Linked DNA regions of Homo sapiens: region 1 is linked to region 2. A link means that fine-mapping ties the variant in region 2 to the expression of a gene that starts in the linked region. Tissue or cell type: whole blood. Region 2 holds a variant in brackets; the other region holds the start of a gene. All regions are shown on one strand. Distances are from middle to middle. Region 1 holds the start of C13orf46 (chromosome 13 open reading frame 46). Region 2 has its middle 13 kb from the start of SWINGN.

Region 1 (4,344 bases), 31 kb before region 2:
AGGGCCTCCCCAGCCATGTGGAACTGAATCCATTCAACCTCTTCTTTATAAATTACCCAGTCTCAGGTATGTCTTTATCAGCAGCATGGAAACTGTCTAATACACCCACCAAGAGACTGCAGGTGGCTTTGTGGAGACCCCAGTGACGCCCATTTGCCCTTGTTGCTCCAGACGACCCAGCACTTGTTGGAGAGAGACAGCGGCCTCCTCTCCCATCCTGGCAGCATCCGCGGGGCTCCCGACATCAGAGTGTCCAAAGCAGGTGCCTCTGAGGAACCGTCCCAGGAGGCCAGGCAGTGCCAGAGCGTGTGTGAGGCCAAGGCCCCCACCCTGCACCCACCACTTGCCCAGAGAGCTGAGGCCTCCTGGGTGCTGAGAGGCTGTGGGCTCTTCAAAAGAAGAGATCAGAAGGAGGGGAGCCTGCAGCCTGGGGGTCACACCTGCTTCCCCCTGGCTGAGGAGCCCCGGGTGCGGGAAGCGGGTCCTGGGGGCGGGGGGGTGCGCCGGCTCGCGAGGTGCCTGTCAAGGGGCAGAAGGGGCTGCCCAAATAAGCCACACTGTTGTAAGGGTTGTTTTGAGCTGAAACAGCCATCCACAAGGATAAGAACGCTGCTTTCTTCTGGCTCTGGAGAGCGTCTTCCCCGTGGGGTGTTACCTCCTCTTTCAGGAAGGAAAGGCCATTCCCGGCCACACAGACCGTGCTGGAGTGCGTGTGCCTTTCTCCAGCTCATCTGCTGATTTTAATTATCAGGCCCGACCAAAAAACCCCAAGAGGTAAAATGTTGCCTCCCCACCCACCGTGGTCTGGAGGCTGGAGGAGACAGCGTGCCGGGGATTTTCTGTTCGGCTCAGTACAGGCTGAACTCTGTCCCGGCAAATCCTCATGCTGGAGCTGTGACCCTGTGACCCTCAGGACCTCAGGGTGTGGCTGCACTTGGGCGTGGAGCTGTAGAGATTGTCAAGGTAAAGCGAGGCCCTGACCCAGTGTGACCAGCGTCCTCATGAGAAGGGGAGACGAGGACGCAGCACACAGGACCACCACGTGAGGACACGGAATACGTCATCTTCGCGCCAAGGAGAGAGGCCTCGGGTAACCAGCGCTGCGAGACACCTTGCCCCCAGCACCGGAGGGAATGAGCTCCCGCTGTTTAAGCCGCCTGCCTGGGAGTGCCAGCAAACCCACGCTGACCTGTGCAGTTCACACCGTCGGCCCGGAAAGCCCTCGCCGGAGCCCCGGCCACATCAGGGTTTCGTCCTGGCGCCGTGTGGGTGGGGAGAGGCGCTGGGCCGGCAGCATTTGCACCCCACCACTGCCTGCAGGGGCTGCCTTTGTCTTCCTGAGTTGATCTGTGTCCCATTTGCCCTGATAGGGAGAGAAAGATTCAAATACCCTGTCACAGAGGGAGACCGGCGTCTCATCTGCAGGCCCTGCTAGGGCTGGTGCCAGTTCCCCGCCCTCCCTGGTGGAGAGACCAGAGATGTGAAAACGCAGAACCCGCCCCAGCCCCGGCCTGCGGGAAAGAAGAAGGGAAGACGCAGAACCCGCCCCAGCCCCGGCCTGCGGGAAAGAAGAAGGGAAGACGCAGAACCCGCCCCAACCCCGGCCTGCGGGAAAGAAGAAGGGAAGACGCAGAACCCGCCCCAGCCCCGGCCTGCGGGAAAGAAGAAGGGAAGACGCAGAACCCGCCCCAACCCCGGCCTGCGGGAAAGAAGAAGGGAAGACGCAGAACCCGCCCCAGCCCCGGCCTGCGGGAAAGAAGAAGGGAAGACGCAGAACCCGCCCCAGCCCCGGCCTGCAGGAAAGCCACGCTGTGCTGCCAGGGATCGGCTGATCTTTGGCCTCTGACCTTACAGTGATGTCACAGCAGACCCATGGCAACGCACTCCCAGCACCTCCTGACTACTCCCTGCGGGACGGCTGGGTGTGAGGGTGGCAGCCTTGTGCTCAAGCCGAGGCTGGGCTGGAGGATGGAGAAGGACACGGGGACCACACACAGGAGGCACCGGCCCGGCCTCAGGGCCCTGCCCTCAGGAGTGGCCCTTGGGCACCTCAAGGCGGCCAGTGAGGCCTCTGAACTTCAGCGAAGCAGGAGTCTGGGAGGCCTGCAGCCCGAGGGGGACCCTCCCAGCCGCCCTAGGAAGCCTCACAAGGAGCTGGGTAGGGGCTGTGGGGCCGCGGGGAGCGGGTGGACGGCGCGGCTGTCCCACCAGGCACTGAACCCAAAGTACCTGCGTCAGAGCCCAGCCCAGTTAGAAAGTTCTAGGAAGTTCCCAAGGTTAGGGATGCGCCGAGACAGCCCCAGGAGGTCCAACGACGTGTGTCCAAGGCGGGGCACGGCCTGACGTCATACATTGCAGGGGGGCGTGGGGCATCAATCAGCACCTGTGAGGGGGTACGTCGGTTCTGTCCGGAAAGGGACAGCCTGAAGCAGGAGGGGCTTCCAGGTCGTAGGTAGAGGAGACACAGGGCTGCATTCTTTGGGTCTCGATCAGCCTTTCACTGAACACACAATTTACACGTGAGGGGACTAGAGGGAGAGTCACTTGTATCCTCGTCCGGCTCCGTGACTGCGGTTTTTCATGAGCAGCCCAGAGGGAGCTGTCGGACACACTTGTCTCAGGTGAGCAGAGGGAGGACCGTGATCTCTGTCCCTGTCCTGCGCCTGTTGACGGTCAGCTGTCCACGTGCATTCCCAGCGTGAAACTCCACAAAACTGCTTAGGGCAGAGATCTTAAGGCTCACAAGGAATTTCCTCGTGGGTGAATGATGAGGGAGGCCTGTGGCCGTTTATCTCTGCAGCTCTTGTTTAGGAAGAGGATGGGAGGCAGGTTTGTCTGACACATTCCCAGCCTTACTCCTCCCCTTAGCTCAGTGATTCAGGGCCCAAGATTCATTTTCCTTCCACCGGCAGCAGGGACCGGGCCGGGCCTCCTGCCTCCCGCTGCCCTGTGCTCGGAACGCTAAGGGTGGAAGTGGGGAGCACTCCAGGTCCACACCCGTAACCCACCCAGGGCTGCTGGGAAGGCCTTGCGCTGCTGGGGCGGAGCTGTGGGGGCTCCAGCCGGGCACAGCCAAGGGCGGGAGGGGTGAGAGGAGGGCAGGCCTGGGACCCTCATGGGCCTCCGAAGCCAGCCGATGCCTGAAGGGAGGATCATAGCCAGGCGCCCCGTTTGCAAGAAGGCCCTGGTGAGGGCCTGGGTCCCTGCCAGGAGCTCTGGGCCTCACCCACCAGCAAGGAACCTGCGTAGCTGGTGTTTGACACGGTTGGCTTCTAAACCGCGAAACGTGTAGGCTGCCCCTGTGTCGGTCCACACTCGCCACTCTGAGATGTTTCCAGGTGTGCCGAACGGACGGTGGTGTGGGCCTGGGGATGGTGCTGCAGTCACCTCCTCACACCTTGAATACTGGCCCAGAGCACAGGGCTGAGGGGCTGACACGGAGCTGCGAGCTGGCGCTCCCCTCCCCTCCCGCGGCCTCGGCAGCTCCGCCTCCCCTTCGCAAAGGTGTCCACGGGGCCGTGGAAGTGAGACAGCCCGGTAGGACTCGGGGTTTGCTTGCTCAAGCCCTGGGGACAATTTTAAGAGGTAATGATGTAAAAATATGTGTTCTTCTCTGAGTTTAAAAATCCAAATATGTGCTATTTGGGGGGCGTGAGTAGTTAGGAGGCTGCACCCTACCTCCCTCCCCACGGGGTTCCCTCAAGACGTGCAAAGTTCTCAAAAGAATAAGTTACGCCAAGGCTGCTTAGCGGGAATTTAAGTTGGGGCGGGGAGTGGATCTCCAATAATGCCGCCCGATGCCACCACAGTGCGGACTTAGAGGCCGGGGTCGGATGGAGGGAGGGATTGAGCCCCATTGTGGCTGACATTTCCCTCAACACCTGCTGGATTTGCCCAAAACTGCACGATGGGAGGTGCCGCAGCAGGGAGGCCGGGCTTCTGTGTGGCCGCTTGTCCTGTCTGGCAAAGATGTCCACCCTGCACAGCCTCCCCCAGGCACCAGCACCCTCAGGGTTCGAGACCACGGCCCAGGAGCGCATCCTCCCTGGAGCTTTGTGGCTGCCCCCAGACAACTGAGATTCTGCCGGAGAAGAGCAGGAGGCATTTCCAGCCCTGTGACCCGAGGAGAAGGGCCGGGCCTTGCTGACCACTGGTAGAGTCCGACGTGGCCTTGGTTTCTGCAGGGACTCAGCTCCTCACCCCTCGCAGACTTGGTGGGCTCCATGACATGCCCAGTGCCACGTGCACCCACAGGTGCCCGGATGTGTGAGACGCCGCGTCCACTTCACAGGGAGGCCTCCGGGATGCGGGAGACGTGGGGTGGCCGACTTCACGGGGGCACCA
Region 2 (4,379 bases):
CCATCACACACCTACAGGGCCGCAAGGGGAACATTTCCAAGGCCATTGTCAGTGCGGTGTAAGGAGGACCTTTCTCCCCATCGGAGCAGGTAACCCAGCAAGGAAGCCCATCCAGCAGCAACCTGCCCTGGCACCTGGTCCTGGCAGGCAGCAGGATGGCCTCAGCAGAGCCGGGATCAGAATGGGGTGGCAGGGGGGTGCAAGCCCACTGGAGGGGGTCCCGGCAGTGAGGTGACCCTGGACATGGGGAGCTGGGCAGCTTCTCTGCATCCATCTCCAGGTGACCTGGAGGGGTCTGGAGCATCAGGGGAGGGGAAGGCAGCCTCCAGGACAAGATGAGCCCTGCCACCTGAGGGGCTTGTGTCTGGAGAAGGTTTCCAGCAGGAGGGGAGCAAGGTCACAACCTGGGGAGGGATCCATCCCGGGGTGACTGGGGTCTGTGAGGCCTTGGGGTGACCTGCAGCGTGCGTCTTGGGATGCACTTGTACCGCATTCCTTCCTGTCGGGATACTGAAGGTCCCGAGCCAGAGGAGAGGAGAGGCAGAGCAGCCCGTCAGTGATGACCAAACCTGCCCACGATGAGTGTGTGGAGGAGGCGCGCTCGTGGAGATGTGCCAGCCGGGTGCAGGGACTGCGGGCATTTGCTGAGAGCCTCCTCCACCAGGTGTTTCCATGGAATGTCTGGTAGGGCTCCCACCAGCCCTGGCCACAGGCCCTGCTGCCTTCCCTCACGTTGCAAGGGGCCATGCCTGACACTCGTCATCACCCACCAACAGAGCGTAAGCCAAAAATAAAACACTAAGGTTCCCAACCATCTGAGTGGACCTCGTCCTCACCAGAGCCCTCTTAAAATGTAACCCGAGAGGTGGTTTCCAGCCATGACGGGAACGGGGGTCAGACATGCCTCGTTCTACCTTTCCAGCATTAACGTCCACACAGACCTGAAGTCTGATGAGAAACATTTCACAGCCCTCTGAAGCTGCTACCTGAAGGCCTCCTCCACAAATAAGAACCTGGGTTTCCAGGATCCTGGATCTGAACTCAGGCATTCCTTTCTATTATTGATCCCAGGTCTTTAGATAAATGTAACCAATTGTCCACCGGAAAGTTTTTAAATCTTCCTATAACCTGAGAGTTCTGCTCCCCTGACTGCTTTGCATTGCCCTGCCTTTCTGAGCCGAACCAGCATATTTCTTAAATGTATTGCCTGAAGTCTCATTCTCCCTAAAATGCATAAAAGCAAGCTACTCTCTGACCACCCTGGACACATGTCCTCAGGCCCTCCTGAGGGCTGGGTCATGGCCCACGGTCACTTGTCTTGGGCTCAGAATGAATCTCCCCACATTTTACAGAGTTTGACTCTTTGTTGACAGGAGCCAACGCTGCTGTCTGACCCCGGCCCGGAGCTCTCCCCGAGCTCTCCTGTGGGAGGCAGCCATTTGCAGAAATGGAGCCGAGCCTCAGTGGGACTGTCAGGGCCCAGGGACCCGAGGGGCCAGCGCTCCCTGAGGGCAGGGCTCAGCATCCACCAAGCGGGCCTTAGAGAGCCATGGCCGCCGGCCATCTGCAGTGCTCGTGAGGGGCACTGACTGCTCCCACCTGGCTCCCACCTCACCTCCGGCGGGCACTGGGGCGCTGTGCCTTTCTCAGAGGCATCAGGGAGTCCAAGGAGACGCCAGAGGACCTGTGTCCCATCCTCAAGGTAAAGGGCACAGTAACTGGCTGACCGATCACCAACAGGCCGCCTCCGCTGCCTGGAGCCCGCTGGCCCAGGGGTTCCTACCGCGCCCTGCCGTCTCCCTCATCCTCCCTCACTGCATCCAGACACCCAGTCCCCTGGTTGCCCGTGCCCGCGTCAGCTCTGGCCATCCTTGTCCTGGGGGCTGGGCATGGATTTTGCTGTCTCGTGTTCTCAGGACTGTATGAAGTCCAGCCCATTTGGCAAGCATCCTGTGGAGGTAAGGCTGTCTCTCAGTGGCTCCTGAGCTGATGTGTCCAACTACAGGTCCAGGTGGTGTCTGCCGAGTCTCCTGGTCAAATCGCCGTCCTTCCTCTGTAGGGGATAATCGTCCTGGAGACACTGGGAGACCAAATCCTGATTCTCCTGGAACTTCTCTGATTTTGGCATCCATGGGGGTCTTGTCAGCAGCAATCAGTTCCGTGGACTTTG[A/C]CTCGTGGTGATTTTCTGTTTCCCCATTTCCTCAGGCATTTATCCATCGAGGTTCTCCTGCAGGGAAGAGCAGTGGGTCCCTCCTCCCGGGCTGCGTGTTGACCCGGCCAGTGGCGACAGCAGCAGAACTCATATGCGTCTATTGTATTCTGTGGTTTGTGAAAAGTGTAGGTCAGTGACCACAGTAGTGGATTCTGTGGTTTGCAATCAGCACGGCCTCTGTGCGTTTTGTTGCTCATGCCACCATGATCGGCCTTTGGCAGCTCTTCATGTTGGCCCCTGTGACCTTCACAAGCTCTTACTTTTTAATTAATTAAATCTGGGGGTGAGCCTCCGGCTCTGGGCTCCACAGGACTTCAGCTCATTGCAAACTTCCCTGCTCTGGAGGAGCAATGAGTCAGCCGCCGGCAAGGACAGCCCATTTGGAGGTAAAGTGCTAAGGGGAGAGGAAGGCGGTGAGAGTAAAGCAGTGGCAGGAACTGCTCAGAGGACAGGTGACATGCGGAGGCCTAGGGCAGACCTCGTCCAGGGCGCTGGGCAGGTCCAGGCAGGTCCTCCAGGCCAGGGACCCTGCGCAGCTGCCTTCTGGGTGGGGAGAGTGGGGGCAGCACCCAGGGTGCCTGGCGTGCTGTGCTGAAGGCCACCTGCGAGGCTGGAACTGTGTCTCCATCTGACAGGCAGAGAAACAGCAGCAGCCCAGCCTGGGAAACGATGTCAACAGCTCCTGTTTCCAGCACGTTCCTGGGTCTCAGACGCCCAGCCTCACACACAGAGTCCCAGAGACCAGGGTATCGAATGCCCAGCCTCACACATGGAGTCCCAGAGGAGATCAGGGTCTCGAACGCTCAGCCTCACACATGGAGTCCCAGAGACCAGGATCTCGAACGCTCAGCCTCACACATGGAGTCCCAGAGACCAGGGTCTCGAACGCTCAGCCTCACACATGGAGTCCCAGAGACCAGGGTCTCGAACGCTCAGCCTCACACACGGAGTCCCAGAGGAGACCAGGATCTCGAACGCTCAGCCTCACACATGGAGTCCCAGAGACCAGGGTCTCGAACGCTCAGCCTCACACATGGAGTCCCAGAGACCAGGGTCTCGAACGCTCAGCCTCACACACGGAGTCCCAGAGGAGACCAGGATCTCGAACGCTCAGCCTCACACATGGAGTCCCAGAGACCAGGGTCTCGAACGCTCAGCCTCACACACGGAGTCCCAGAGGAGACCAGGATCTCGAACGCTCAGCCTCACACATGGAGTCCCAGAGACCAGGGTCTCGAACGCTCAGCCTCACACATGGAGTCCCAGAGACCAGGGTCTCGAACGCTCAGCCTCACACACGGAGTCCCAGAGGAGACCAGGATCTCGAACGCTCAGCCTCACACATGGAGTCCCAGAGACCAGGGTCTCGAACGCTCAGCCTCACACATGGAGTCCCAGAGACCAGGGTCTCGAACGCTCAGCCTCACACACGGAGTCCCAGAGGAGACCAGGATCTCGAACGCTCAGCCTCACACATGGAGTCCCAGAGACCAGGGTCTCGAACGCTCAGCCTCACACATGGAGTCCCAGAGACCAGGGTCTCGAACGCTCAGCCTCACACACGGAGTCCCAGAGGAGACCAGGATCTCGAACGCTCAGCCTCACACATGGAGTCCCAGAGACCAGGGTCTCGAACGCTCAGCCTCACACACGGAGTCCCAGAGGAGACCAGGATCTCGAACGCTCAGCCTCACACATGGAGTCCCAGAGACCAGGGTCTCGAACGCTCAGCCTCACACATGGAGTCCCAGAGACCAGGGTCTCGAACGCTCAGCCTCACACATGGAGTCCCAGAGACCAGGGTCTCGAATGCCCAGCCTCACACATGGAGTCCTAGAGGAGACCAGGGTCCCAGACGCCCATCCTCACGCAGAGCCCCATAGGAAACCAGCACCTGCGTCTTCTGTCTGGGTGGCACAGGGAAAGTGCTTCCCCTGGGAATACTCGGCTGGCATCCACCCCGCCAGTGTGTGCTGCAGGCTGGCTCATCTGGGGGTGGGGGGCTTGGCGGCAGCACCGCAGGGTCTAGGGGAGCCCACCTGGCTCTGGCCTCCTGCTCTTCGCTTCCGGGGAAACGGCCCAGGCCCCTGCTGCACACTCTTCCTTCCCCTCTTCAGTAGTAAGAGGAGCCAAATGCGGCTGACGGTGCATCTGAGGCCGAGGCGCA

The links. PIP is the estimated chance that this variant, and not a neighbour inherited with it, causes the effect.
Region 1: it holds the start of C13orf46, and the variant in region 2 is fine-mapped to the expression of C13orf46 in whole blood (TOPMed, PIP above 0.99).

What each region holds. Positions count from the first base shown.
Region 1 is chr13:113,971,622-113,975,965 of GRCh38, reverse strand. It overlaps C13orf46 (chromosome 13 open reading frame 46), which reads left to right and starts at 1,890. Exons shown (of 7, transcript NM_001365455.2): 1 at 1,890-2,158. The coding sequence starts at 1,969.
Region 2 is chr13:113,940,130-113,944,508 of GRCh38, reverse strand. It overlaps a transcript of C13orf46 not described here. Among named protein-coding and RNA genes, the nearest start is that of SWINGN, 13 kb to the right of the region's middle. The variant A/C (reference allele first, on the strand shown) is at 2,171.